4 linked regions of the Homo sapiens genome follow. The protein of the gene in region 1 purifies or fractionates together with the protein of each later gene. This does not show direct contact. Each region holds a gene or a part of one and is shown in the gene's direction. Other genes may lie near its edges.

Region 1 (7,563 bases):
TTCAAGCAATTCTCCTGTCTCAGCCTCCCAAGTAACTGGGATTATAGGCATGCACCACCATGCCCAGCTAAGTTTTGTATTTTTAGTAGAGATGGGGTTTCACCATGTTGGCCAGCCTGGTCTTGAACTCCTGACCTCAAGTGATCCACCCTCTTCGGCCTCCCAAAGTGCTGGGATTACAGTCATGAGCTACCATGACGAGCCACCATCTTCCTATCAATCTATCTATCCATCCATCCATGCATCTATCTATCTATCTATCTATCTATCTATCTATCTATCTATCTCCCTCCCTTCAACAAATCCATTCCCCCTCACCCCAAGTCTTACAGTGAAATTGCAGCCACAGTTACTCCCTTCCCCCATGCAGGCTCTCCCGCTGGTTGGTGGCTTCGGGTCCCCTCCCCAGAAAAAGAAAAGGGATGAGGTGAGAAGGTGATGGATTAGAGGGGTCCACAGAGTTTCCAAATCCCCCTATACCTCCACCCCCCATTTCTGCAACCCAGTCAGGCTCTCTGGTATTGCAGAGTAAGACAGACAGGGACCCCAGGGCCCTCCTTTCTGGCTCCCCACCCACCCGGAAGTCCTCCTTGAGGTCCGACCTCAAGCACTCCAGCTGCCCTAATCCACCCTAGGCTTTCCCACGCCCCGGGGCTGGGATGAACCCCTGGTGTCCGGGTCTGAGCCGGATCTCCCCTGACAGGGTGGGGCTGAGATTGGGGGGAAGCCCTTGGGGGACCCGCACCCCCACACCAGGAGACTGGAATTTCTCCTCTTTCATTTCCTTATTGTCTCTGGAGAAGGGTGTGACAGGGAGCAGAGGAAGGCAGTGTGAAGCCAGAAGCCAAGTTTCTAGTCCCAGACCCAACCCAGGACCCCAGTGTTCTGCGTGCGGGGCTTCAGAGTTAACCACCTCTAAAACAGGGGAGCAGCTGGACCAGCTGATCTGCAAGAACCTGAGGCCAACAGGGATATCCCAGGATGGTAACTTTCCAAGTTCTTTCCAGACAGCAAGCTGCCCTGAGTGTTAACGTCACCCCAAGCGGGAGGGTGCTATGGGCAAGAAGTGGTTTGGGGACCCTCTCAGCTCTCAGTTGCTGGCTGAGTGTAGGTATTTCTCTCCCCATTGTTCTGACCCAAGGGGAAGAGGTGGGCTTATCTGATGGGAAGGCTGGGGAGAGCCTCAGACAGTATCACCCAACCATTTCCATTCCTCCAAATACTGACTCTCCCAAAATATGCCCTGAAATGCTGATTACCTCCAGACTGTCCCTCTACTATTATTATTTTTTGAGATAGGGTCTCATTCTGTCACCCAGGCTGGAGTGCCGTGATACGATCACAGCTCCCGGCAGCTCGAACTCCCAGCCTCAAGTGATCCTCCCACCTCAGCCTCCCAACCAAGTAGCTTAGACTACAGGCATGCCTGACTAATTAAAAAAAAATTTTTTTTTTAAAGACAAGGTCTCCCTATGTTGCCCAGGCTGGCCTCAAACTCCTGGGCTCAAGAGATCCTCCCACTTCGACCTCCCAAAGTGCTGGGATTACAAGTGTGAGCCACTGTGCCGGCTTTCCTTCAATTTCTGACACAATTTCCATACAAATTGTCCCCTAAACTTGGATCTATTCAGACTGTGCCCCAAATATCAACTCCTCCTGCCTAGACCCCCATCATTTACTTAAGATGTGCCCCCAAAACAACTGTAGTTGGTTTGTACAATTGGTCTGTAGGTGGTTCCCTTAAATCAGGTCCCCAGACTGAGTTCTGCAGAGGTCCAGCTGGGATCACCCCCACTACCTGGAACCCTCCATTTCCCACCTGGGTCTCTGCCTTCCGCATCTCACAACTGATACCTCCAGCCACCCTGCCTCCACCTCTCAACACTCCCAGTCCCTTTCCCTGTTGGCCCTGCCCCACCCCACGTGCACCTCACACCTCCCCAAACCCAGGACTGGCCCTTCCCAGGCACCTTGCCCAGCCCTGAAGGCCTGGGGATCCAGGAGTCCCACCCTACAGTTTCGAGCCCCAGACCCAAGACTCAGGCACACTGGGGCCCCCGCAGTCACCAGATCTTGACTCCTTGGAGAACCTAGCCATTCCTGCCCCACACCCCACCTCAAGCCCACAGTCCCCTTCCAGGTTAGAAGTCCAAGTGTCCAGACCCCCATAATTCTCAGACCAAGAACCCAACCCCCAGCCCCAACAACCTCACAACGTTGATTACAGAGTGAGGTAGCTAAGGTGTAGGGGTCGTTGCAGCAAGACGAATGGGGGTCAGACTTGAGGAAGGACTTTCTGTCTGTCCAGGTGAGGGGATTAGAATATGCCGCCACCCCCCACTCCAGGGAAGCCTTGTCTGAGGTGAGACTGGATGGGAATTTTAGCAATAGCTGGAGGTTGCTGGACTGGCGGGGAGCAGGGGAAGGTGCACAATCTAAAACTCTCCATCTTCCGACTTGGGGAGTCCCTGCGGAGGGTCATGGGTAGGGATGGGGGGGTGGAGATCGGCCCCTCTCCTGCCAATGCTGATGGCTACATCTTCTGCTCCCAGATGCCCAACTCTAAGCCACCTGTTATTTCAGACTCCAAAAACGAAGCTTCATCTCTGAGCACCCCCATCTCTGACCCCTGAGCACCAATCCCTATGTCTGACCCTACCTTAGATTACCAGCTGATCCTTAGCCCCGAACCCCGGTTCTTTAACACTGTGTGCTGGCCCTGAGCTCCCACCTCAGTCTTCCCCTTAATGGTGACTCCTCCTCCATCTTTTAGTCTTTCTTTCCCTCCAACTTTGAACCTCACATCCTGAAACCCCCTAGTCTGTCCCCTACCCTGGAACTCTGATTCCTATCTTTGGTTTGTACATATAAATCCCTTGCTTTTTGGGGCTCCAACACCCGGCTCCCAAGTTTAAGGTGTGACCCGACCCTTGGCTAAATTTTCCTGACTTCCATTTTTAAGCCCTGGCCGCGGCGAGGCTGCCCAAACAGCGCTCCCATCCATGCCTCGTCCCCGGTCCCCGACTTCCACACCTGGTCTCCGTGTTCCCAGTTCCTCAGCTGCCCAAGTAGACGCCTTTGCCTCCATTTGAACCCACAACCAGTCCCTGCTCCATGTGAGCCCACACCCCGATACCTGCCCCCAACTTCCCGCTCCGCCATCCCCGAGGACACACCTCGCCCGCCTCCGGGTAGTAGCTCCACTCGGCCAGGTCATGGGCCTCCATCTTCACTGAGCCCAGCATCCCCCGGGCTTACGCCCCCACCCGCCCCCGCTCCGGCCCCGGGGGAACGGAGCGCTCTGGATCTCTCAGCGGGCACGGCCCGAGCTCCCACCGGCGCCCGCCCGTCCGACCGCCCGGGGTACGGCTGTCCCGAGCGCCGCGGGAGGCGGCCACGCTTTATAGCCGGGACACCCCCGCCCTCGCCCGCCCCGGGCTCCCCTCCCGCCTCCCCGAGGGCGGCGCGCTCGGACTGGGGCGCCCCCTGCGGGATCGCCAGGAGACAGACCTCAGGCGCCGGGGGCCGCAGCCCCAGGACGCGACAGCTGGGGGTGATTCAGGAGTGAGGGAGCTGCCCGCAGCGACGCTGCAGATACCAAGGGCCCCGAGGTCAGAACTCTGGAGCCTTTCTACCTCAGGGGGCTTCATCATCTCGGCAGGAGAGGACGAAGAGCCAGAGCCCTGCATGACCGTGGCGGAAGAAAGGGGAATCAGAACGCTAGGGCCACTATGCGACTACAAGGACCCGTAAAAGGTCCCCGAAATCACATCCCCATTGGACAGACAGGAAGACTGAGGCTTCCGACGGCTAGAAATGCTTAACTTGGCCGGGCGCGGTGGCTCACGCCTGTAATTCCAGCACTGCAGGAGGCCGAGGCGGGCGGACGAATCACTTGAGGTCAGGAGTTTGAGACCAGCCTGGCCAACAGGGTGAAACCCCATCTCTATTAAAAATACAACAACTAGCTAGGCGTGATGGTGCGTGCCTGTTATCCCAGCTATTCGGGAGGCTGAGGCAGGAGAATCGTTTGAACCTAGGAAGCGGAGGTTGCAGTGAGCCGAGATCGCGCCACTGCAGTCCAGCCTGGGAGAGAGAGCGGGACTCCGTTTCCAAAAAAAAAGAAAGAAAGAAAAGAAAAGAAAAAGAAATGCTTCAGACTGTTGAAAGGGTCAAGAACAAAGATGGAGGGGATCGGGGCCTCTCCGCAGACCCCACTAGGGCAACAGACCACCTCCCCTCCAAGACCCAGGAGCTTCGCTGCCCGAACTCCGCACTCTCCAAGACCAGCCAGCCGTCCAGGGACTCAGCACCACTGAGAACTCCATTTCCCAGAATGCTCTAGCTCCCTTTCCGCCCGGTGCCTCCGAAGGGACTACATTTCCCAGAAGGCCTAGCCGGACCCAGAGCCGGAAATGAAGGGTCTGCTCGCCGTAGTATGGAGGCGGGCAGAATGCCGCTCGCACGGGACGAGGCATGGGCGGGGTCGGGCTGTGCTCTGGACTCCATTTCCCGGCGGCCCTGGGTGTGTGGCGCGTGCGCACCGTTCCCGGCGACGAACGGAAGATGGCGGCGGCGGCGGCGGCGGAGTGTAGGAAGAGGCACTGCTGAGGGGGCGCGAGGGGAACGGAGGCCAGAGCTGCGGTGAGCGGGAGGCGGCGTTTGGGCCCGGAGACGAAAGGAGGAGGCTCCTAAAGAAGCAGGGGCTCGGGCGGGGAGGGCATCGCCGTGGGGAGAGGGGAACAGTGGCTTTCGCGACCCATGTTTCTTCCCTTGCTCAGGACCCTTCCTTGGCTCCCTAGTGCCCTCGAGGCAAAGTTCCAACGTGGCCCCCCGGGCGCCACCGCCCCGCAGACCTCGCTTGCTTCGACTCGGCCTCTTTGCTTTTTCCCCCACCTCTAACAGCCGCCCTGGCCTTTCGGTTCCTTAAACTTGCCATGCGCTTTCCCGCTTCGGGGATTTTGCACAGGCTGTCCCTTCTGCCTGCAACATCCTTTTACCCATTCGGCTTGGCTAACTCCCATTTCATCCTTCGGGTCTCGGCACCAACGTCACTTCCTCTGCGAAGCCCTCCTTCCCTGCCCTCCATCCAGAAATCCGCCTGTTAAATGCTTTTGTCGGTCCGTGTTCCTTCATGTCACGTGTGGTCTAATTTGTTATCCGACTCTTATCTGTGTGCTGTTTTATGATGTCTATGACCGTGTGTTCCATGAAGGTAGGGACTAGGTTTGTCTCTGTCGCCACTGTGTTCTCAGCACAGCGCCAATCACGCCGGAGACGCCCAGCTAATGTTCGTTGAAGGAATAAAAGATACTCCTAGAGCCAGTTTGGGGAAACAGGGTAGTCATCAGATTCCTAGGTAGCAGTGGGGCAGGGTACCACTTCTTAACGAGTACATCGAGAGGGAAGGGGAAACAGTGATACTGTTCATCATAGCAAAAGGCTACACGCATCCCAAATGTTCTTAAATAAGAAGATTGGCTGAAAGAAACTATAATACATCCACATAAAAAATACTATGCAACTCTAAAAAGGAATGAGGTAGATAAAAGGAAATGATGAAAATCTCTATACACTGATATAGTGGCCTCCAACATATATTAAGGGAAAACAAGTGAAGTGGAGGTTGGTGTTTATTGTATATGCTTTTTCTTTTTTTTTTTTTTTGAGACAGGGTCTCACTCTGTCGCCCAGGCTGGCACGATCCCAGTTCACTGCAACCTCCACCTCCCTGGTTCAAGTGATTCTCCCACCCCAGCCTCTCGAGTAGCTGGGATTACAAACGTGCCCCACCACACCCAGGTAATTTTTATATTTTTAGTAGAGACGGGGTTTCTCTGTGTTGGCCAGGCTGGTCTTGAACTCCTGACCTCAAGTGATCTGCCCACCTCAGCCTTCCAAAGTGCAGGGATTACAGGCCTGAGCCACCAAACTCGGCCTGTGTAGGCTCCTTTTTTTTTTTTTTGAGACAGAGTCTCACTCTGTCACCCAGGCTGGAGTGCAGTGGCGTGATCTCGGCTCACTGCAACCTCTGCCTTCCAGGTTCAAGCAATTCGCCTGCCTCAGCCTCCCAGGTAGCTGGGATTACAGGCACACCACCACGCCTGGCTAATTTTTGTATTTTTAGTAGAGATGGGGTTTCACCATGTTGGTCAGGCTGGTCTTGAACTCCTGACCTCGTGATCCACCTGCCTCCGCCTCCCGAAGTGCTGGGATTACAGGCGTGAGTCACCGCTCCCGGCCCTGTGTATGCTCTTTTTGTAAATGAAAGGGAAATATGTATATATGGGTTTTTTTATTTTCATTTTTTTTCCTTTTTTTGCATAAAATCTAGCTCCTGCAGGAGAATTTTGTGTATGTGTGTTTAAAAAAGAACAAAACAAAACTGAAAGCATAAACCAAAAAGCAGAAGAAGAATGAAACAGGGTAAAATATTTTGGTTGATCTGAATGTATTATCATGAAAAAAGTGGAAATGTTTATTATGGGGTTTTATTTTATTTTATTTTATTTTTTGAGGCAGAGTCTCATTCTGTCGCCCAGGCTGGAGTGCAGTGGTGTTGGGATTACAGGTGTGAGCCACCATGCCCGGCCTGTTTTTTTTATGTTTTGACTGGGGACGGCATGCCATGCCGGTTGTCTGGTGGCCAGGATCCTTGGCTTACGTAAACAGACCTGGGGGTAAAAAACAATTCCTTTCAGATAAACAGTACTGTAGCATAGTGGTAAGGAAGATATGCAGCCATGCTGCTGACTCTGCCTCTTACAAGCTATATGCCTTTGGTCAGGTCACTTTACCTCCCTGGTCTTCAGTTTCCTCATCTGTAAAATGAAAATTAAAAATACTAACTCCCAGCCTGGGCAACATGGCGAAACCCTTCTCTACAGAAAGTACAAAAATTAAATGGGGATTCGCCTGTAGTCTCAGCTACTTGGGAAAATGAGGTAGGAGGATCGCCTGAGCCCGGGAGGCAGAGATTGCGGTGAGCTGAGATTGCGGCACTGCACTCCAGCTTGGGCAACAGAGTGACACCCTGTCTCAAAAAAACAAAAAATGTAAACCTAACTCATGTATATTAATTCTAATATATACATATTAATTCATTTAAACCTTGGTGTCTGAGGTTTAAATGAGTTAATATGTATATCTTAGAATTGTGCTTAGCACATATTAAGTGTTCTCTCTCTCTCTTTCTCTTTCTCTCTCTGTGTGTGTGGGTTTTTTTTCTTTTTTTTTTTAATTTGAAACGCAGTTTCACTCTTGTTGCCCACGCTGGAGTGCAATGATGTGACCTCGGCTCACTGCAACCTCCTCCTCCCAAATTCAAGCGATTCTCCTGCCTCAGCCTCCCGAGTAGCTAGGATTACATGTGCCTGCCACCATGCCTGGCTAATTTTTTTGTATTTTTAGTAGAGATGAGGTTTCACCATGTTGGCCAGACTGGTCTCAAACTGCTAACCTCGGGTGATCCACCCGCCTTGGCCTCCCAAAGTGCTGGCATTATAGGCTTGAGCCACCGTGCCCGGCCGTGTTCAATATATATTAACTGATTATTTTTTCTTT
Region 2 (6,626 bases), on another chromosome or scaffold:
GAGGTGGACGAGATTGAAGTGTACGGCAGCGAGGCCCAGTCGGGAACACAGCTGGCCACCTACTCCTTTGAGGTGAGATTGAGGCAGCAGGGCCCCCGTCCCAGCCAGCGCCCCCAGCGGGCCCCTGACTCTTGCTGTGCCGCAGGTGTGTGACAGCATCCTGAACATTGGACCCTGTGCCAATGCCGCCGTGGGCGAGCCTGCCTTCCTCTCTGAAGAGGTGCCCAGGGTTGGGGTCGGGGCTGGGGGCAGGGGCTGGAGTGTGAGGGGGGGTGGGGGGCATAGTCCTCACCCCCGAGTCCTGTGCAGTTTCAGAACAGCCCCGAGCCGGACCTGGAGATTGTGGTTTGCTCCGGCCACGGGAAGAACGGGGCTTTGTCGGTGCTGCAGGTGTGTGGGCAGGTAGGGGGCGGGCGCCTCCTGGTGGGACCTGGGTGGGCTCACACCCCCATCACACCCCCACCCCATCATCATTCTAGAAGAGCATCCGGCCCCAGGTGGTGACAACCTTTGAGCTTCCCGGCTGCTATGACATGTGGACAGTCATCGCCCCGGTGCGTAAGGAGGAGGTAGGTGCGAGCCTGCTGCAGGGAGGCCCTGGGATGGGACCGGCGCTGCCTTCTCATAGGCCGGGGGTGCCCAGGTCGCACCTGCGTGCCTGCCTTCACTGGACTGTGGCTTCCAGCCTGCCCCCCTTTGGCCCTGACAGGAGGACAATCCCAAGGGGGAGGGCACAGAGCAGGAACCCAGCACCACCCCTGAAGCAGACGACGACGGCCGCAGACACGGATTCCTGATTCTGAGCCGGGAAGACTCCACCATGGTGAGGGGCAGGGCCTGGGACCTGGGACCTGGGGCTGGGGTCCCCTGCGGGGGGCGCCTCCCTCACAGCTGTCGCCCGCAGATCCTGCAGACGGGGCAGGAGATCATGGAGCTGGACACCAGTGGCTTCGCCACTCAGGGCCCCACGGTCTTTGCTGGGAACATCGGGGACAACCGCTACATTGTCCAAGTGTCACCACTGGGCATCCGCCTGCTGGAAGGAGGTAGGTGGGGGGGGTGGTTGGGCCCTGGGCATCTGCCTGCTGGAAGGAGGTAGGTGGGTGGGGACGGTGGGGGGGAGGTGGTTGGGCCCTGGGCATCCGCCTGCTGGAAGGAGGTAGGTGGGTGGGGACGGTGGTGGGGAGGCGCATGCTGACTGCCCCATGCCTACAGTGAATCAGCTGCACTTCATCCCCGTGGACCTGGGCGCCCCCATCGTGCAGTGCGCCGTGGCCGACCCCTATGTGGTCATCATGAGTGCCGAGGGCCACGTCACCATGTTCCTGCTGAAGAGTGACTCCTACGGTGGCCGCCACCACCGCCTGGCGCTGCACAAGCCCCCGCTGCACCATGTAGGCCCCCTCATTCCCGGCGCCCTCCTGTCCCTGCCCCTTGCCCGCCGCTGAGCCCACCCCTCTCCCCGCAGCAGTCCAAGGTGATTACGCTGTGCCTGTACCGAGACCTCAGCGGCATGTTCACCACTGAGAGCCGCCTGGGTGGGGCCCGTGACGAGCTCGGGGGCCGCAGTGGCCCGGAGGCCGAGGGCCTGGGCTCAGAGACTAGGTGCGTGGGGGCTGGGGGCGCAGGTAGGGGCTTGGGTCCCTGGGGCTGGCAGGCCGCCCATGACCTTCTGCTGGCCCCCAGCCCCACAGTGGATGACGAGGAGGAGATGCTGTATGGGGATTCGGGCTCCCTCTTCAGCCCCAGCAAGGAGGAGGCCCGAAGAAGCAGCCAGCCCCCTGCTGACCGGGACCCTGCACCCTTCCGGGCAGAGCCTACCCACTGGTGCCTGCTGGTGCGGGAGAATGGCACCATGGAGGTAGGTGGTGCCCTGCACTGTGGCCCAGCGGGTTCCACCCACCTGCCTCCACTGACTGCTGCCCACCCTGCAGATCTACCAGCTTCCCGACTGGCGGCTGGTGTTCCTGGTGAAGAACTTCCCTGTGGGGCAGCGGGTCCTTGTGGACAGCTCCTTTGGACAGCCCACTACACAGGGCGAGGCCCGCAGGGAGGAGGCCACGCGCCAGGGGGAGCTGCCCCTCGTCAAGGAGGTGCTGCTGGTGGCGCTGGGCAGCCGCCAGAGCAGGCCCTACCTGCTGGTGAGTGCGCCTGGCCTGGCCTCCCCTTCCCATCTTCCCCCTGGCCCTGCCCGTTCCCCCACAGCCCCGCCCCTTCCCGTGGCTCCACCCCATCTCCCCCACGGCCCCGCCCCTTCCCGTGGCTCCACCCCATCTCCCTCACAGCCCCGCCCCTTCCCATACATGGCTCCACCCCATCTCAGCCCCGCCCCTTACCCACAGCCCACCTCTTCCCATGGCCCATCCCATGTTCTCCATGGCCCTGCCCGTTCCCCCATGGCTCCCCTCATCCTGCCAGGTGCATGTGGACCAAGAGCTGCTTATCTACGAGGCCTTCCCCCACGACTCTCAGCTCGGCCAGGGCAATCTCAAAGTCCGCTTTAAGAAGGTGCCAGTGGCTGGACTGCTGGGGCGTGGGGTGGGTGTGGTACAAGGTGTGGGTTTCAGACCGGCAGCCCCTGGAGGACCTGCATGGTTCCCCCCCAGGTCCCTCACAACATCAACTTCCGTGAGAAGAAGCCAAAGCCATCCAAGAAGAAAGCAGAAGGTGGCGGCGCAGAGGAGGGGGCTGGGGCCCGGGGCCGCGTGGCGCGTTTCCGCTACTTCGAGGATATTTATGGCTACTCAGGGGTAGGCCAGCGCCTTTGCAGGGGTCTGTGGTAGAAGGGAGACGCGGCCTCATCCGCAGCATCCTCATCCACAGCATCCTCACGGTGCCTGCCCCCAGGTCTTCATCTGCGGCCCCTCCCCTCACTGGCTCTTGGTGACCGGCCGAGGGGCTCTGCGGCTACACCCCATGGCCATCGACGGCCCGGTCGACTCTTTCGCTCCATTCCACAATGTCAACTGTCCCCGCGGCTTCCTGTACTTCAACAGACAGGTGGGGCCCGGCCGGTTCCCAGCAGCACTGGCTGATGCTGCCCCAGCTGGGGGCTGAGGGGGAGGGGACAGGAGAAGGGACCATTGGCTCCACCCTGAGGACCAGGAAGGAGTGTCCAGAGGGCGATGGGGTTGAGGTCGAGGAGGTGGAACCTGTGACTTGGTTGCTCCAAAGGTCTGGAAAGGGGTGGTTGGGAGCTGGGGCTGCAGCCCCTGGGGTCCCCACCACTGCTCTGCCGGCTCGCCGGGCAAGCCCTCGCAGGGCCTGGCCTCCACACTTCTCAGGAGAGCTGACGTGAGTGCTAGCTCTGCCCCTTGGCTGCTCTGTGACTTTGGGAGGGCACACAGGCTTTCTCATCCTGGTTCCCTATTTAAGCCACCACACCACCAGGTCACTTGAGACCCTGCCTGGGATGCGGTGAGTGCTTCCTGGGTGCCTGAGGACTCAGGACTGTCCATGAAAGAGGGCAGCCCTGGCTCCCTCTGCCTGGTTTTCAGTCCCCAGCATGGCAGTCTGTGGGCTGCCCTTTGCAGCCTCCAGTGCCCTCCTGGCCTAGCTTTCCCATCCCCTGTGGCCAGCACCCCTAGCCCCAGCTGAGCGTGGGAAAATGGACAGGAGGAGCCCCAGAGGCTGAGTGGCAGCCCCTTCCAGGACCTCGCCAGGACACAGCTGCCCCTCACCCACCCCTGCTCCCACAGAGCTGAGGGCAACATCCCAGGGCTCTTGGCGGCCTGGGCCTGCCTGCCCCTGCCCTTGGCTAGCCCTGGATCCCCTGACCCCTGTGCCCCCACCCCAGGGCGAGCTGAGGATCAGTGTCCTGCCTGCCTACCTGTCCTATGATGCCCCATGGCCTGTCAGGAAGATCCCGCTGCGCTGCACGGCCCACTATGTGGCTTACCACGTGGAGTCTAAGGTCTGCCCCCACCCCCACCCCACCAGGGACCTTCTGGGCCTGGCCGGGCCACTGGTGTGTGACCCTCACTAACCCACAGGTGTATGCTGTGGCCACCAGCACCAACACGCCGTGTGCCCGCATCCCACGCATGACTGGCGAGGAGAAGGAGTTTGAGACCATCGAGAGAGGTGGTGACGCCCACACCATACTCCCATCCTCAGCCGCATCTTGGGGAAGCCCTACTCTGACTGTCACCCTTGGTCCCCACAGATGAGCGGTACATCCACCCCCAGCAGGAGGCCTTCTCCATCCAGCTCATCTCCCCGGTCAGCTGGGAGGCTATTCCCAATGCCAGGTGAGGCTGGGCCGGCGGGGGTGGGGTCTGCCCAAGGCCTCCAGGCAGCATCCTGAGGCCCCTGGCCCCCACAGGATCGAGCTGCAGGAGTGGGAGCATGTGACCTGCATGAAGACAGTGTCTCTGCGCAGTGAGGAGACCGTGTCGGGCCTCAAAGGCTACGTGGCCGCCGGGACCTGCCTCATGCAGGGGGAGGAGGTCACGTGCCGAGGGCGGGTAAGGGGCCAGTGAGCGGGGGCGGGAACTGGCAGCCCCTCTGCCATCCCCACAGCCATCCCACAGCCATACCCATGCCCTCCAGATCTTGATCATGGATGTGATTGAGGTGGTGCCCGAGCCTGGCCAGCCCTTGACCAAGAACAAGTTCAAAGTCCTTTACGAGAAGGAGCAGAAGGGGCCCGTGACCGCCCTGTGCCACTGCAATGGCCACCTGGTGTCGGCCATCGGCCAGAAGGTGTGCCAGTCCCACCCGGCGTGTGTCCCCCGGCTCACCCTCACCCGGCTCCCCGTCCGCGCCCGCTCACCCTCGCCCTCGCCCCCAGATTTTCCTGTGGAGCCTGCGGGCCAGCGAGCTGACGGGCATGGCCTTCATCGACACGCAGCTCTACATACACCAGATGATCAGCGTCAAGAACTTCATCCTGGCAGCCGACGTCATGAAGAGCATTTCGCTGCTGCGCTACCAGGAGGAAAGCAAGACGCTGAGCCTGGTGTCGCGGGTACACCTGTGGCGGCGGTGCTCGTGTCTGGGTGGGTACCCGCCCAAGGCACCTCTGACGCCCCCTTCCCGCCCCCAGGATGCCAAGCCCCTGGAGGTGTACAGCGTGGACTTCATGGTGGACAATGCCCAGCTGGGTTTTCTGGGTATGTGGGCAGGGCCCTGGGGAGCTGAGGCTCTGGGGGTGGCCGGGGCTGACCCTGGGCCTCTGCTCCCCAGTGTCTGACCGCGACCGCAACCTCATGGTGTACATGTACCTGCCCGAAGGTGAGTGCTTCCTCCACCCCCTCTGCCTGGGCCGGGGCTGGGCTAGCAGTGACCCCTAGGCCTTTCTGGTCTAGCCAAGGAGAGTTTCGGGGGCATGCGCCTGCTGCGTCGGGCAGACTTCCACGTGGGTGCCCACGTGAACACGTTCTGGAGGACCCCGTGCCGGGGGGCCACTGAAGGGCTCAGCAAAAAGTCGGTCGTGTGGGAGAATAAGCACATCACGTGGTTTGGTGAGTGTGGGGGAGCAGGTGTGTCTGGGTGGGGGGCCCTAGGGTTGGCCTGGCTCACACCAAAACCCTCACCCTACCCCTGCCAGCCACCCTGGACGGCGGCATCGGGCTGCTGCTGCCCATGCAGGAGAAGACCTACCGGCGGCTGCTGATGCTGCAGAACGCGCTGACCACCATGCTGCCACACCACGCCGGCCTCAACCCCCGCGCCTTCCGGTGAGCCCCGGCCCCGCCCCCGTGCAGCACCCCCTCCACCCCAGCCTGCCCTGACACCTGTGCCTGTACGCCCCAGGATGCTGCACGTGGACCGCCGCACCCTCCAGAATGCCGTGCGCAACGTGCTGGATGGGGAGCTGCTCAACCGCTACCTGTACCTGAGCACCATGGAGCGCAGCGAGCTAGCCAAGAAGATCGGCACCACACCAGACATAGTGAGTGCGCGCCCCGCCCCCCGCGCGCCCCGCCCCTCCGTGTGCATCCCCACCCACCCACCCACCCACCCTTCCATCCCCTGCAGATCCTGGACGACTTGCTGGAGACGGACCGCGTCACCGCCCACTTCTAGCCCCGTGGATGCCGTCACCACCAGCACACGGAACTACCTCCCACCCCCTTTTTGTACAAAACACAAGGAAAAACATTTTTTGCTTGAGAGGAGTGTGTGGTCATTACACGGCCTCCTGGCCCAGCTGCTGTCACAGCCCCCCAGTGCGAGTGCCCACGGGGCTCGGGGTGTCTACACCTCTAGCCCCGCCACCTCCGTCAGCCCAAGGTGAAAAGGGCCCCGCCGGCCCTGGGCGGCTGCACCCTAGGTCTCCAGGTACTGGTAGAGCTCCTCCGCTGGGGGCACGAGGCTCAGGTGGACCAGAGCACGAGCCAGGAGGGCGGTCAGCCGCATGGCCAAGGTCTCCAGCCTGCGTGGGTCAGGTCACAGGTCACAGGTGGGTGGGGAGCAGGCCCCCGCCACCCACCTGCCCCGCGGCCACTCACCTGAGCGCCACTTCAAACTTGAGCATCTCCCAGACGACCTTGGCGTGGCGCAGGAGGCTGGTGCCGTAGACACCCCGATACGTGGCGCCCGCCAGGCGGCTCCAGCCCCGGACAGCCCTGCACACACCCGCGTTAGCGCCGCGTCAGCCCCACACCAGCCCCACCACGGCC
Region 3 (7,323 bases), on another chromosome or scaffold:
GATGGCAAAGGGTTGCGATACTTACAGCCATAAGGCTGGCAGTTCAACAGGGTAGGCCCAAAACTTAGAGGCTGGGAAAGTCAGGTGACCCCTTGCAAAACACTGAGCCACCAGGGGAAAGAAGCCAGGAGCCACAGAACCCAAAGTGCCCCTTACCTTCCCTTCCTTGATCAGGTGTTTGCACTGCAAGAAGTACCAGTACGGGGTGTTTCTCCGGCCTCGCCATAATTTGGGCTCCGGTTCCATTTGCTCATCTCTCCGTTCCCCAAACCGCAGGTTATGGAACTGGGCTGCGGATTTGCGGAATAGTCTCCGGGAGGAGTATTTGTCAGAGAGGGTCCCAAAACTCTCCTCCTCCTCCTCGTCTTCTTCCTGCGTGGCCGTGGAGTTGGAGTGGCTCGGGTCAGAGCCCAGGCTGCCCGTGTTTTCCTGACGCTCCTGGCCGAGGGGCAGCTGAGAGGAGGAGCTGCTGAAGGGCGCCCACATTGGCCGCATCAGCCCCTCCCTGCCTCCTGCCCACCTGGCTCTACAGGGGTCCAGGTGTTGCAGGATGAACAGTCCCATGGGGCGGGCCCTGGCGAACAGTCGAGCGAGTCTCACGAAGTCCATTTCTGGCTTTCCTGTCCCTCCAGGGCCTGGAATATATCAGGAAAAATAAGAGAGTCAACTCAGTTCCTAGTAACAAAAGGCAGAAAGAAAGAAGTGGTTACAAGTATGGGCCCAGGCCAGGCGCGGTGGCTCATGCCTGTAATCCCAGCACTTTGGGAGGTCGAGGCTGGCATATCACTTGAGGTCAGGAGTTTGAGACCAGCCTGGACAACATGGTGAAACCCCGTCTCTATGAAAAATACAAAAATTAGCCAGGCTTGGTGCTGTGCGCCTGTAATCCCAGCTACTCAGGAGGCTGAGGCAGGAGAATCACCTGAACCTGGGAGATGGAGCTTGCAGTGAGCTGAGATTGCGCCACCATACTCCAACCTGGGTGACAGAGTGAGACTCTGTCTCGAAAAAAAAAAGAAAAGAAAGAAAGAAAAAGAACAGGCCAGGGGCGGTGGCTCATGCCTGCACTCCCAGCACTTTGGGAGGCCGAGGCGGGCAGATCAGTTCAAGACCAGCCTGGCGACACCCCATCTCTACTAAAAATACAAAAAACATGAGCTGGGTGTGGTGCTACACGTCTAATCCCAGCTACTGAGGAGACTGAGGTAGGAGAATCGCTTGAACCCAGGAGACGGAGCTTGCAGTGAGCTGAGATCGCGCCACTGCACTCCAGCCTGAGTGACAGTGAGACTCTGTCTCAGAAAAAAAAAAAAATAATAATAATAAATAAAATAAGAAGTATGGGCCCAGAGGTTAGAAAGCCTAGGTTCAGGTCAGACATAGCTCACTGCAGCCCCACCCTCCTGTGCTCAAGCGATCCTCCCATTTCAGCCTCCCGAGTAGCTGGAACTACAGGTGTGAGCCACTATGCCTGGCTAATTTTATTTTTTGGTAGAGACAGGGTCTTGCTATGTGCCCAGGCTGGTCTTGAACTCCTGGACTCAAGCAATCCTCTCGCCTCGACCTCCCAAAGCACTGGGATTACAGCAATGAGCCACCATGCCCAGCCTAAAGTATTTTAGAGTCTGGTTATATTAGAAGGTTGCGATTGGAAAAGTCTTACAAGTGATGGCAGATTGAACAGATTAAAAACTAGGCCCAGTAGGTCAGGAGCGGTGGCTCACGCCTGTAATCCCAGCACTTTGGGAGGCCAAGGTGGGTGGATCCCCTCAGGTCAGGAGTTCGAGACCAGCCTGACGTGGTGAACCCTATCTCTGCCGAAAATATAAAAATTAGCTGGGCGTGACAGCGTGCCCCTGTAATCCCAGCTACTTGGGAGGCTGAGGCAGGAGAATCACTTGAACGTGGGAGGCAGAGGTTGCAGTGAGCCAAGATCGCGCCATTGCACTCCAGCCTGAGCGACAGAGCAAGACTCCATCTCAAAACAACAACAACAACAACAAACAAAAAACTAGGCCCAGCAAGGGGAGAGACTTGCTGGGGTCCTGCAGCAGTGCAGTGGGTGAGACTGGCCAGCTTGGGCTGGGCTGGCTTTGAACTCAGGTCCATGTAACGCATTGATGATTGTCCTGACCAGCACCTTTTGTGAAACTAGTGCAGGGGGCCTTTATCATTCTGCATCTGGCAAGCCCTGCCACTCCTTCTTACAAGCATGGTGTTTATGTAATTTTCTTTTTTGTGGAATGGGGTCTTCATGTTGCCCAGGCTGGAGTGCGATGGCACAGTGGAGTGCAAATGCACAATCACTGCAACCTCCAACTCCTGGGCTCAAGTGATCCTCCTACCTCAGCCTCTCAATTAACTAGCACTACTGGTGCACACCACCATACCTGTCTAATTTTTTGTATTTTTTTGTAGAGATGGAGTCTCCCTATGTTGCCAGGCTGGTCTAGAACTCCTGGCCTCAAGCAATCCTCCAGCCTTGGCCTCCCAAAGTGTTGGGATTGCAGGCGTAAGCCTCCATGCCCTGCCTTACGTGCATTAATTACAATACACAGAATTACAAAACAAAAAGCAATGATATTGAAATGGCATCAAAATGCTTTAAAAACAAATTTCTGCTATACTAGTATAGATGCTTATTTTCAATGCATGAAATAACAAGACCCTATCATAATTTCTTTTCTTTTCTTTTTTTTTTTTTGAGACAGTCTCTCACTCTGTCCTCAGGCGTGACCTCGGCTCACTGCAATTTCCGCCTCCCGGATTCAAGCGATTCTCCTGCCTCAGCCTCCCCTGGAGCTGGGACTACAGACGCATGCCACCAAGCCCAGCTAATTTTTGTATTTTTAGTAGAGACAGGGTTTCACCATGTTGGCCAGGATGGTCTGGATCTTTTGACCTTGTGATCCGCCCGCCTCGGCCTCCCGAAGTGCTGGGATTACAGCCGTGAGCCACCGCGCCCGGCCGACTCTATCATAATTTCAAAGCAGTAATAAATGTAAGTGACAGCTTAAGATACCACCTTGTAGTTGCTGCACAAACTGGGTTTTTTTGCGTCTCACTCTGTCACCAGGCTGGAGTGGGGTGGTACAATCTCGGCTCAATGCAACCTCTGCCTCCCGGGTTTAAGCCATGCTCATGCCTCAGCCTCCCAAGTAGCTGGGATTACAGGAACGCGCCACTACTCCAGGCCAATTTTTATATTTTCAGTAGGGACGGGGTTTTGCCATCCTGTCCAGGCTGGTCTCGAACTCCTGACCTCACGTGATCCTCTCGCCTCAGACTCCCAAAGTGCTGAGGTTACAGGTGTGAGCCACCATGCCTGGCCCTGCACAAACTGTTATCTGGAACTATCATTTACACTCACCCTCACAGTTTCAGGCACTGCTAAGGCTGCTCCAGCAATCAGGAAAGGAAATGCTATACTTCACATAGAGAAAAATAGGGGTGCATTTTGTTCCTACACAAGCTCATTACCCCACCCTGGTTAAAAAAAACCCTGAATTAGGCTGTATAGTGGCTCATGCCTGCAATTCCAGCACTTTGGGAGGCCCAGGCAGGAGGATCGCTTTGGGCTTGGGGCCAGGAGTTCGAGACCAGCCTGGGCAACATAGCAAGACCCGCCACCCGCCCCCCCAACCCCGCCGTCTCTACAAAAATTAAAAATAAAATTTTAAAAATTAGCCAAGTGTGGTGGTGCAGCGTCTGTAGTTCCAGCTACTCGGGAGGCTGAGGTGGGAGGATCGCTTGAGTCTGAGAAGTTGACTGCAGTGAGCTATGATCGTACCCCTGTACTCCAGCCTGGGCCACAGAGCGAGAAAAAACCCTGAATTAGAGACACGCTGCGGCCGTCCTTCCTCGGAGAGACCCGCCCCTCCTCAGAGGCCCACCCGGACCCTCAGGCCAACGCCGACCCCTCTCCACACGGACTTCTGCAGCCTCAGTTTCCCTCCTCAGACGCCCCCGGCTCCAATCCCGGCTCGGGCACTTCCTTCCCCTCTGGCGTGTCTTGGCCCGGGTCCCGGGGCTCCTGCGAGGATCACACAGGAACTCACTTGAAGTGTCCGGCGCAGTGCACTCCGACGGGGAGCCCTGCCCGGTCCCCGCGGCGAACCAGTCTCTTCCTCGGGTCCCCCTCTCCCCAAGCGCGCAGGCGCAATCCGCGTCGCCGACTCACGCGGCTGGTTTCAGGTTTCTGGCGAGGCCGGTGTTCGGCTGGCGGCTAGCTGGGACTAGCGGAACGGCGGAGTCTCGATTGGCAGTGCCTGGACAGGCGCAAGGGCCGGCGCGGGCTCCGGGCGCTCCCGGCATCCCTCGGGCGGCGGCGGCGGCGGCGGCGAGGCGAAGCGAAGGAGGAGTGTGTGCGGCGGGGCCGGCGGCGGGTAAAGGCGAGAAGGCTGCAGGAGACCGAGGGGGAGCCGGGCCGGTGGGGCCGCCGCCGCCGCCATGCAGGAAATCATCGCCAGCGTGGACCACATCAAGTTTGACTTGGAGATCGCGGTGGAGCAGCAGCTGGGGGCGCAGCCGCTGCCCTTCCCCGGCATGGACAGTGAGCGCGGGGCCCGGGCGGGAGGGCAAGAGCGACTCGAACCCGGGACCCGCTCCTCTGTGATCCCGGGACTCCCTCGCCTCGGTCCTGAGACCTCCCCCGGCTTCCTCTGGATCCTGGGACCCCTCCCCTTTGGTCGCAGGACTCCTCCCTCTAGGTCTTGAGAGTCCCTCCCACCTCCTCCGGGTCCTGGGATCCTCCCCTTTAGTTACCGAACTCCCTCATCTGTGGTCCCGAGACTCTTCCCACTCCATCCTGAGACCTCCTCTTCTGGATCCCGGGACGCTCCCCTTGGTTTCAGGACTCCTGACTCCCAGGCCCCCATTTCCACCGTCTGGGGACTCCTTTTACCCTCACTCGGACTCAGGAGTTCACTGCCTCGGATCTTTGGCCCTCTGCGGCTGTTCAAAGGTAATCTGTAGGAGGGTAGACCTTGTCTGTTCGCTTAATTCTTGAATAAGGGTGGGTTATCCTGGATTGGAACTCTCCCTCAACACTCTCCCAACTGCAGGAGAGTACTAGGATATCACACCCGCTACGTTGAGCGTCTCTTCTTGATTTCATCAAAACTAGGCGGTTGGAGGAGATGTGCTGAGGGAAGGACCACCTTTCTGTAGGAGACCCCAGCTAGACTCTCAAACTCCCTTCTAGGACTCACTCTCCTGGGAGCTCATCCCTAGTTTTTGGCCCGTCCCTACTTTTTTCTGGACCCCAACTCTGAGTTATTCATCACACCCAGCAGCTGGTGTGGACCCTTGGCCTGAACTCCCTTCACTGCTCCCCTTCATATGGTGGCTCCTGGCTTCCCACCTCCTACTCGGTGGGATATCTTGTACTTTAAAAGAAACCAGTAGTTTTCTTTGTGTCTTCTTTCCTATCTGGACATACTTGAAATCTAATGCTATAACCTTAAAGTTTGGGGGCTTGTGGAAGTCACTGAGTTCAATCCACAGATGGGGAAACTGAGACCCAAGCGGGGGAAGGGACTTGCTGACAATCACTCAGTGCATAGCAGAGGCGGGCAAGCTCTCCAGTGTTGTGTGCTGTCGCCCACAACTACCAGCGGGGTCTCCCACCGCTCCCAGCAGCCTCACTCCCCTCAGGCGGTCACACCTTCTCATGCACATGTGACCTCTGAGTCTGTCCCTTTATGTGTTTTTGTTGTTGTTGTTTGTTTGCTTTTGAGACAGGGGCCCCTCTGTCGCCCAGGCTGGGTGCAGTGACGCAATCATGGCTCAATGCAGCCTCGACTTCCCAGGCTCCAGCAATCCTCCCACCTCAGTCTCCCAAGTAGCTGGGACCACAGGCATGCACCAACACGCCTGGCAAATTTTTTTGTGTGTATTTCTTGGTAGAGACACTATTTCATCATGTTTCCCAGGGTTGGTCTTGAACTCCTGGGCTCAAGTGATCCTTTTACCTCGGCCTTCGGAAGTACTGGGATTATAGGCATGAGCCACTGCACCTGGCATATATATATATATATATATTTTTTTTTTTTTTTTTTTCCTGCCTGTCCCACAACTTTACATGGTGATAGTTCTGTACAAGATAGTTTCATTGGAAATTAATTAAGTCTTCAAGAAGACAAGATAGTGCTTATAAGGAGACATCATCAGACCACCCTATTTGACACAGGCACAAACACCATCACCACTGTACACTCCCTAAAAAGCAGCTGCTCAAATTCACACACACACACCCCCTCTTACCTACCCCTCGACTCTTGTGATCATCCCTGCACATGTGGCCTTTTCCTGTCTTTTTTTTTTTTTTTTTTTTGAGACAGAGTTTTGCTTTTGTCACCCAGGCTGGAGTGCAATGGTGCGATCTCGGCTCACTGCAACCTCCACCTCCCAGGTTCAAGCAGTTCTGCTGCCTTGGCCTCCTGAGTAGCTGGGATTATAGGCGCCCACCACCACGCCCAACTAATTTTTGTATTTTTAGTAGAGATGAGGTTTCACCATGTTGGCCAGGCTGGTCTTGAACTCCTGACCTTAAATGATCCACCTGCCTCGGCCTCCCAAAGTGCTGGGATTACGGGCATAAGCCACTGTGCCCAGCCGGCCTTTTCCTGTCTTGATGGCACTAGCTTGAGACCATGGAACCACCCACGCAGGGCAGCTCTTTTCCTCCCACCCTTCTGCCATCTGACACATCCACAAGCCTGTGAGGGGAGGTACAGTGGCGAGGGGCCCACATACCTGTTCCTGAGGCCCGGGACACACCTAGCCATGGGTGTTGCTCCAGCCAGGGCTTCAGAGTCGGTAGGCACCCTCCACACTCGCTGCTTGTCCATATCCTGTTCAGTTAAAGCCTAGTGAGGCCACAGCCCTTCCTCACCCATCCCTCCTCTTCATCCCCATCTGAGTTTTGGGAAGAACTGTCACTTTGCCCATAAGGCATACTCATCCTATCCACATGAGACTCAGTTCCCAGAACTGTGTATTTCTGAGCAGAAGCAACTCTAACCTCTAAAGAGAGAGACCAGAAGTACTTTCAGAATTTTTTTTTTCTTTTTTTTTGAGACAGAGTCTTGCTCTGTTACCCAGGCTGGAGCACAGTGACGCGATCTTGGCTCACTGCAACCTCTGCCTCTGGGTTCAAGTGATTCTCCTGCCTCAGCCTCCCAGGTAGCTGGGATTACAGGCACGTGCCACCATGTCTGACTAATTTTTGCATTTTTAGTAGAGATGGGGTTTCACCATATTGGCCAGGCTGGTCTTGAACTCCTGATGTCAAGTGATCCACCCGCCTCAGCCTCCCAAAGT
Region 4 (7,021 bases), on another chromosome or scaffold:
TGTGAAGGAAACAGGAAAGCCAGCAAGACAAGATGAGAGCATCAGGTCAGAGAAGCCAAGGGAGAGGTGCTTGAGGAAGGAGCAGGTACTCCTTAGGAGTGACAACGGCTGCCAAGAGAACAAGATAGGGACTGACACCTATAGTTCCAGCTACTTGGGAGGCTGAGGCGGGAGGATCACTTGAGCCCAGGAGTTGAAGGCCAGACTGGGCAACATAGGGGGACCTTGTCTCAAAAAAAAAAAAAAGACTGAAATGACTACTGAGCAGCAAGGACAGTTTCAGAAAAGTGATTGGTAAAAGCCAGAGTATAGCGAATTGAGGAGCGAGTAGAAGGTGAGGAAGTACAAGAGGGTCCACTGCCCTGGGAGGTGGTCTGGGGAAAGAATAAAGTGGGAACTAAAGGAGCTTAGAGTCAAGGGATTTTAATTTGGGGATGAACATGGCTGTAGTATGTTTAAATTTGGATTGGATGGTAAAGAGCAGACAGTGAGGAAAATGTCAATGACACAGCAGTGTTGAGTTCCTCAGAAGGAGGGAGGGAGTACGTAGAGTAGAATGGTGGAAAGTTTCATTGTGGAAAGAGAGGTCTATTCTATCTATAGAGGAGAAATAGAAGGAGACAGATGTGGGCAGGTTGGTACCCTGTTGGTACATGTATTCTTAATTATTGTACCAACATGAAGTTGAGGAAATTTACAAATGGACTGTTTATTTTTTTGATGCAGAAGATGGCCCATGCCTCAAGTGAAGAAGAGGATAGAAGGTTGGAAAATTTGGGAAAGGGAAGAAAGTTTGAAAATAGTTGATATGGAAATGAAATGGAGAAAACAGCCAGGCAACATTGAGGGCCAGTTAAAGTGGAAGGCCAGGGTATCCACAATAATTACAAATAAAAAATGTTTAAAAAGTGGAAGGCCAGGAATTTATGGCGGCTCTCATCCACAGTTGTTTGATCTTCTGTATCAACACCTGTTTGGAGGTAGGATCTCAGTTTGGGGATAGATCCATTGCATGTCCATCTGACTGAGTTCCTTGAGGTCAGGGTCCCTGTAAGGCATTTCCATGTCCTAGGCACTTAATCCAGTGCTTGGCAAATAGAAGCTGCTTAATGTTGAGTGAGTGAGTGGATTGTGAGCTAGAATGGTTGGGAAAAGGCATCAAAGAAGGTGAGGGATTTGAAAGATGAGGTTTAACTTAAAGTGTGCCTTGTGACCATTGCAAATTATGGCTGAAATTATTAAGAAGAAACAAAAATTATGTAAGTAGTTGGTATAAAATATGCTGAAATAACAGAAAGTAGAAGAAAAAGTGATTGAAATTCACAGTATGAATAAGTATTTTAAAAAAAAAAATTTTTTTTTTTTTTTTTTGAGGCAGAGTCTCGCTCTGTTGCCCAGGCTGGAGCGCAGTGGCGCGATCTCAGCTCACTGCAAGCTCCGCCTCCTGGGTTCACACCATTCTCCTGCCTCAGCCTCCCGAGTAGCTGGGACTACAGGTGTCCGCCACCACGCCTGGCTAATTTTTTGTATTTTTAGTAGAGACGGGGTTTCACCGTGTTAGCCAGGATGGGTCTCGATATCCTGATCTCGTGATCTGCCTGCCTCGGCCTCCCAAAGTGCTGGGATTACAGGCGTGAGCCACCGCACCCGGCCATTTAAATTTAAGCCATTTGGCAAATACACATTATGATCTTAAAGAAGATGACAGTGTTGAAATGCTTATGGCTTTCTACTTAAGTGCTAATTCTAGAAGTATTATTATATAATCTGCGTAACTGCTAGTTTACATTTTAAATACATTATAATTTAATCCTAAAATTCAGAAAATTGAATTTAAATCAAGCCCAAACCTTTGGGCTTCTTGGATCTGTACCGCCTTCTCTCTTAATTTTAAGAACTGCAAGATCCCTGGACTCCCAAGGATCAGTTTTCATCTGTTCTCATGTGGACACTGTTCTTCCCTGTCTTTGTGATTTTGTAGAACTCTCTTACGTCTCAGAATTTTTCAGTGAGGTGCTGTCATCAGATGGCATGTAGTGTACATTGTAAAAAAGTGTAAGTTTATTGGACTTGGTTTTGATTTTTTTTAATCCTTCTTTTTCTCCCCTTGAATATTTACAGTGGAGCTGGGCAAGAAGTAGGAAGATCATGTATTATTCTCGAGTTCAAAGGAAGAAAAATAATGGTAATTACTATTTTTGTACTCAGTTTAATAGTATGGCTCTGTCTGTATTGGGTGTTAGTCTTTTCTCATAGACTAGTTATCTTTTTAGCTCCCAGAAAAATGTTATAGTACATGTAATCTATGCTGTATAGTGTTAATGAGAAAAACTAATACACACTTCTACTTAGTAATTTAGTTGATTAAGAAGATATATTCTATGACTGTAAAATTGTCAGCTAGATCTGTTGAACTGTTACCTCTTCAAAGTCCCTCTTCCACTCCTGAAGGGTTGAGCCAGCCTAACTGCCCCACCCCCAGTGGAAGATCCCAAGGGCCCAAGCACTCTGAACACACTGAGAGCTCTAGCCGCCTCCAGCATGTGGGGATCAAGCCTTGGCCTAGAAGCTTGGATCCCCAGGTCCCACTGGGGCTGCCGGCCTTGGCCAAGTCACTTTGCTTCTCTAAGCCTGAAAGGTAGAGGGGTTAGAGGAGATAGTTTCTAAGGTACTCATTAGAAAGTCAGTTCTGTGTCTCAGATTCCTTTGATTCCTCTTTCTTCTCAACTCCTCCCAATCTGAAAAGAACATGTATAGGTCAGACATAGTCATCCTTTTAGTCATCTGTTTTGTTAATTTGGTAGTAACGCCATAAAAATAAGTAACTTTAATGACTGAGTCTTAAGAATTTGTTCCCTAATGCCTTAAAATATTTAAATTACCCTGATCAGGTAAGTTTCCCATTTCTAATTATTATCTTCTCACGAGAGTCGATCTGGTAGTAGTAAATCTATAAACTTTTAAAATTTTAATCTGATATCAAAGTTTTTGAAAAAGATTTAATTCGTTGTTAGAATGACGACCAAAAGTAGCTGGAAAGAAGCTGTTTTGTACTTTGCATCCTGTGACCCCTAAATGTGAGCTATATTTTAAATTTGTTGGGAAGTTAGAATTGTTAATGGCATATTTGCCACATTTAATAAGAATCATGTTCCAAGTGCTAGTGCCTGGAGTCCATCTTGAGTATATGGGTGATGGAACTAGAATTATTGCCTATTTGCCGAATGAATTTTAATAAAATGTGCAGGAGATTGTGATCTCTTTTCCTGTTTCTTTCAGCTCGACTGTGGGATCCACCCTGGCCTAGAAGGAATGGATGCTCTTCCTTATATTGATTTAATTGACCCAGCTGAGATTGATCTCCTATTAATTAGTCAGTAAGTTTTTCCCTTTATTAATGACACTTTTTCACGGACTTTTACTATCAAGATCATTCTTTACTAGATTTTGAGAGTTTGGTTTTTTAAAAGAGTGTTTTCTGCTAGGAAGCATATTGCAGACATCTGAGTCTAAACCAACACTCCGTAATGTCATCACAGGCTAGAGAAGTTTGCTATGAAAAACTTACCTACCTCTATGTATAAGTTCAGTGAGTATGTGAGAAGGAGATAGTACAGAACTTGAATCATTGTAAAACTTGAGACTAAGAAAGCCCTTTTCCAGGATATCTCCTTGAGGTCACTGTTTTATCACATTCTTCTATAAGAACGCCATTTCACCTTTATTGAAACTATTTTTAAATAGAGTTCATATAGAAAAATGTGACAAGACAGTGACCTCAGGGAGATATCCATGTTTCAACTTTATTCTGTTAAAATGTTTGCTGTAATTCTGGCTGCCAGGAGTAGGCTTGGGATATTCTTCTTCCTCCCTAATTCACTAATAAAGTTTTTTGCTGTTTAAAAACAATACTTTAAACATCTTTCCTCCATTTTAGAACTGTATGCATTACTTCTTCCTTCTACACATACCTACTCTTGGTTTTTCTGAAAGTATCAGCACATAGTTGTTTATATAAAACTTGTTTTGTACAGTAAGCAACAGTTTCATTACATGGTATCTGATGGATAATAATTTTAAGAATTAATGCAGCCTCTTTCTTTTTAAGTTTCCATTTGGATCACTGTGGAGCTCTGCCCTGGTTTCTACAGAAGACAAGTTTCAAAGGAAGAACATTTATGACTCATGCCACAAAAGCTATTTATAGATGGCTTCTTTCTGATTATGTCAAAGTTAGGTAAATTACTTTATTAGATTATACACGACTTTGGCTCTATATGGCATGTATGGTTCAAGATATGGACCATTTTGTGTTTTAAAATGAGGTGCTCCCTTTTCATGTATAAGGATATCAGTAATTTCATCATTCATTAACAAGGTCATTGAAACCTATTGTGTTTCTAGCACCTTCCTGACCTTGAAGGTTTTTTTGAGACAGGATCTTGCTCTGTCATCCAGGCTGGAGTGCAGTGGTGTGATCACAGCTCACTGCAGCCTCAGCCACCTGGGCTCAAGCAGTCCTTCCACCTCAGCCTCCTGAGCAGCTGAGACTACAGGTGTGTGCCACCACACCCAGCAGAGTTTTTTGTTTTTTGAAGAGATAGGGTCTTATGTTGCCCAGGCTAGTCTCAAACTCCTGGGCTCCAGTGATCCTCCTGCCTTGGCCTCCCAGAGTGCTGGGATTACAGGCATGAGCCACTGGCCTGGCCTTGAAGTCTTTATATAGCTTTTTGTGTCCTTTTAAAACTTCATTAGGCTGGATTGGAAGAGTTATGCTTAATTGTGGTAACACTCGTTAACACTTCAATAATGCTTACCACATACTAGGCCCAATCCTAAATTCCTAATGTATATTAACTTCACACAAAGATAAATAAATATACATATTTTTTTTTTCTTTTTTTTTTTCTTTTTTTTTTGAGACGGAGTCTTGTGCTGTTGACCAGGCTGGAGTGCAGTGGCGCTATCTTAGCTCACTGCAACCTCTGCTCCCGGGTTCAGGCAATTCTCATGTCTCAGCCTCCCCAGTAGCTAGGATTACAGGCACACAGTGCATACCACCACGCCTGGCTAATTTTTGTATTTTTAGTAGAGACGGGGTTTTACCATGTTGGCCAGCCTGGTCTTGAACTCCTGACCTCAGGTGATCTGTCTGTCTTGGCCTCCCAGAGTGCTGGGATTACAGGGTTGAGCCACCGCACCCAGCCGGGAGATAAATATATTTAATCTTCACACCAACTCATGATGTAGGTTCTATTATAAATTCCATTTTATAGATGATGAAACTGAGGCACAGCGAGGTTAGGTTATTTGCCTAAAATCGTCACAGTAAGAGACAGAGCAAGGATTTGAACCCAAACAATCTGGCTCCAGAGTCAGCGTCCTTAACCACTGTTCTCTCTTGCTTTTTTGTAAGTACATTAACATAATTTTCAGGAGAAAGGTTGTGCTAGACTTTGTAGAAAAATCTTTTCTCATCCTAATGTGAGAAATATCTGCCATGGTTCAATGTATGTGAGTGTGTTATATCTTTCAGGAGTGTTGGGGTGGGAAAAAAGTTTGAGAAGTACTATCCTAAAGAGTATTTTGTCTTAATTTATTGTATGTATTATTGAAAATTGAGAGTACTTTGAGCTCAGTGTCTTAATTTCCTGTGTGGTTTGTTTAAAATCAAGTTTTGTAGCTATACACACAATAGAGTAAAAAAAAAATACACAAAATATCTGAGAAATTTTAAATACATGATTCATACAGTATATTTTAAAGAAATATCTTCATGGAGATGTTATCCACAATTTCTTTGTGTTCAAAGGCTTTTTAAAAAATCTGACTCTTAATTGTTTTTGCTGGCATCTTTCAAAATTTAGTAACATATCAGCAGACGACATGCTGTATACCGAGACAGATTTGGAAGAAAGCATGGACAAAATTGAAACTATCAACTTTCATGAAGTTAAGGAAGTTGCGGGAATCAAGTTTTGGTGTTACCATGCAGGTCACGTCCTAGGAGCCGCCATGTTCATGATTGAGATCGCAGGCGTGAAGGTACCCTCTGGCTGTGGCGCTTTTCTCCCCAGAGAAATCAGTACAGAGCTTTGTGCCACCAAGTACTATTAAAAAAAAAAATTCCCTAAGACTTGCAAAGTGTCAGAACACGGAAACATAAGATAAAAATACAGTTAACGCTTGTTCCTTTTAAATATTGCAGTTCCTACCTCCATTACAATACTTTCTTTATCAAGACTGAGGAAAAAAAAATTTTTAAAGACTGAGAAAAGAGTAAAATAAACATCTCAAAAAGTGATTCCCTGACACCATAGGATTCCGTTTGCTTTAGAAAACTGGTTAGGGAAGAGGTGTCTTTGTGGCTGCATTCGTTTAAAATTAAAACACAATTTGATATTCATGTCCCCCTGATGTCTTAGAATTCACAGGTAAGCCCCTAAGCAGGGTGGACTGCAAGAGTGAAAGGGGTTAATTAGGAAAGATCTTTGGGGAAGCCTTGAACTTCTGACAACGTGGGTGGGCCGCTGGCTTTCCAGACTCCAGAGCAGCCGCTCTGAACTCAGGCTGCAAATAAGACTCACTTAGGGAGCTGCTGAAAATAACTGTTGAATCAAAATCTGGAGGCGCAGCTTGGCCTTTTCCTTTTCGAGTTTGCTAGGTGATTCTAACGTCAGCCAGAGAACCAATGCTCTAGTGTCACGTCCTAAATTTTTCACAGCTGCTTATACATTTGGAACTTTTAGACATTGAATTGTAAAGTATATCACTAAATCACTTATTCTTGCAGTTTGCTCCAGGGCACAAAAAATAAGTAGCACAAATGCAGATGTGAATTCTCTTGGAATTTGATGCAGACCCTCTTATGATTTTATCTCCGGTTTTAGACCATGTACCTCAGTGCACTCCTTTCCTTGTCTGCATGCCCTTTTTCTCTAAGAAGTTCAGAGCACTTCTCAAGTGGATTAATGTTATATAGGTTATCATTGTGAGATGATACTGGGAATAGATTATTCCC

Evidence for each region.
Region 2: the proteins of SYMPK (region 1) and CPSF1 fractionate together in Homo sapiens (co-fractionation; 5 studies listed by BioGRID and IntAct, with this or other methods). This does not show direct contact.
Region 3: the proteins of SYMPK (region 1) and CPSF4 purify together in Homo sapiens (affinity purification with mass spectrometry; 5 studies listed by BioGRID and IntAct, with this or other methods). This does not show direct contact.
Region 4: the proteins of SYMPK (region 1) and CPSF3 fractionate together in Homo sapiens (co-fractionation; 6 studies listed by BioGRID and IntAct, with this or other methods). This does not show direct contact.

The regions. Positions count from the first base shown.
Region 1 is NC_000019.10:45,860,139-45,867,701, reverse strand, and holds the start of SYMPK (symplekin), read left to right. Parts: upstream 1-4,554; 5' UTR 4,555-4,644; intron 4,645-5,674; exon of another isoform or gene 5,675-5,802; intron 5,803-7,563. Other genes in the region: FOXA3 (hepatocyte nuclear factor 3-gamma), read right to left, coding at 3,177-3,245. UniProt on the Homo sapiens protein: Scaffold protein that functions as a component of a multimolecular complex involved in histone mRNA 3'-end processing. Specific component of the tight junction (TJ) plaque, but might not be an exclusively junctional component. May have a house-keeping rule.
Region 2 is NC_000008.11:144,392,722-144,399,347, reverse strand, and holds the end of CPSF1 (cleavage and polyadenylation specificity factor subunit 1), read left to right. Parts: coding exon 1-72; intron 73-145; coding exon 146-220; intron 221-309; coding exon 310-390; intron 391-479; coding exon 480-569; intron 570-709; coding exon 710-823; intron 824-904; coding exon 905-1,046; intron 1,047-1,117; exon of another isoform or gene 1,118-1,159; intron 1,160-1,215; coding exon 1,216-1,394; intron 1,395-1,468; coding exon 1,469-1,605; intron 1,606-1,686; coding exon 1,687-1,861; intron 1,862-1,934; coding exon 1,935-2,141; intron 2,142-2,418; coding exon 2,419-2,508; intron 2,509-2,606; coding exon 2,607-2,750; intron 2,751-2,847; coding exon 2,848-3,000; intron 3,001-3,796; coding exon 3,797-3,913; intron 3,914-3,992; coding exon 3,993-4,083; intron 4,084-4,165; coding exon 4,166-4,250; intron 4,251-4,324; coding exon 4,325-4,466; intron 4,467-4,551; coding exon 4,552-4,704; intron 4,705-4,792; coding exon 4,793-4,969; intron 4,970-5,047; and 14 more. Other genes in the region: ADCK5 (putative aarF domain-containing protein kinase 5), read right to left, coding at 6,274-6,379, 6,456-6,572. UniProt on the Homo sapiens protein: Component of the cleavage and polyadenylation specificity factor (CPSF) complex that plays a key role in pre-mRNA 3'-end formation, recognizing the AAUAAA signal sequence and interacting with poly(A) polymerase and other factors to bring about cleavage and poly(A) addition.
Region 3 is NC_000007.14:99,434,634-99,441,956, forward strand, and holds the start of CPSF4 (cleavage and polyadenylation specificity factor subunit 4), read left to right. Parts: upstream 1-4,309; 5' UTR 4,310-4,449; coding exon 4,450-4,552; intron 4,553-4,793; exon of another isoform or gene 4,794-4,963; intron 4,964-7,323. Other genes in the region: ATP5MF-PTCD1 (ATP5J2-PTCD1 fusion protein), read right to left, coding at 157-635; PTCD1 (pentatricopeptide repeat-containing protein 1, mitochondrial), read right to left, coding at 157-609. UniProt on the Homo sapiens protein: Component of the cleavage and polyadenylation specificity factor (CPSF) complex that play a key role in pre-mRNA 3'-end formation, recognizing the AAUAAA signal sequence and interacting with poly(A) polymerase and other factors to bring about cleavage and poly(A) addition.
Region 4 is NC_000002.12:9,426,644-9,433,664, forward strand, and holds part of CPSF3 (cleavage and polyadenylation specificity factor subunit 3), read left to right. Parts: intron 1-2,121; coding exon 2,122-2,185; intron 2,186-3,279; coding exon 3,280-3,377; intron 3,378-4,108; coding exon 4,109-4,237; intron 4,238-5,867; coding exon 5,868-6,045; intron 6,046-7,021. UniProt on the Homo sapiens protein: Component of the cleavage and polyadenylation specificity factor (CPSF) complex that plays a key role in pre-mRNA 3'-end formation, recognizing the AAUAAA signal sequence and interacting with poly(A) polymerase and other factors to bring about cleavage and poly(A) addition.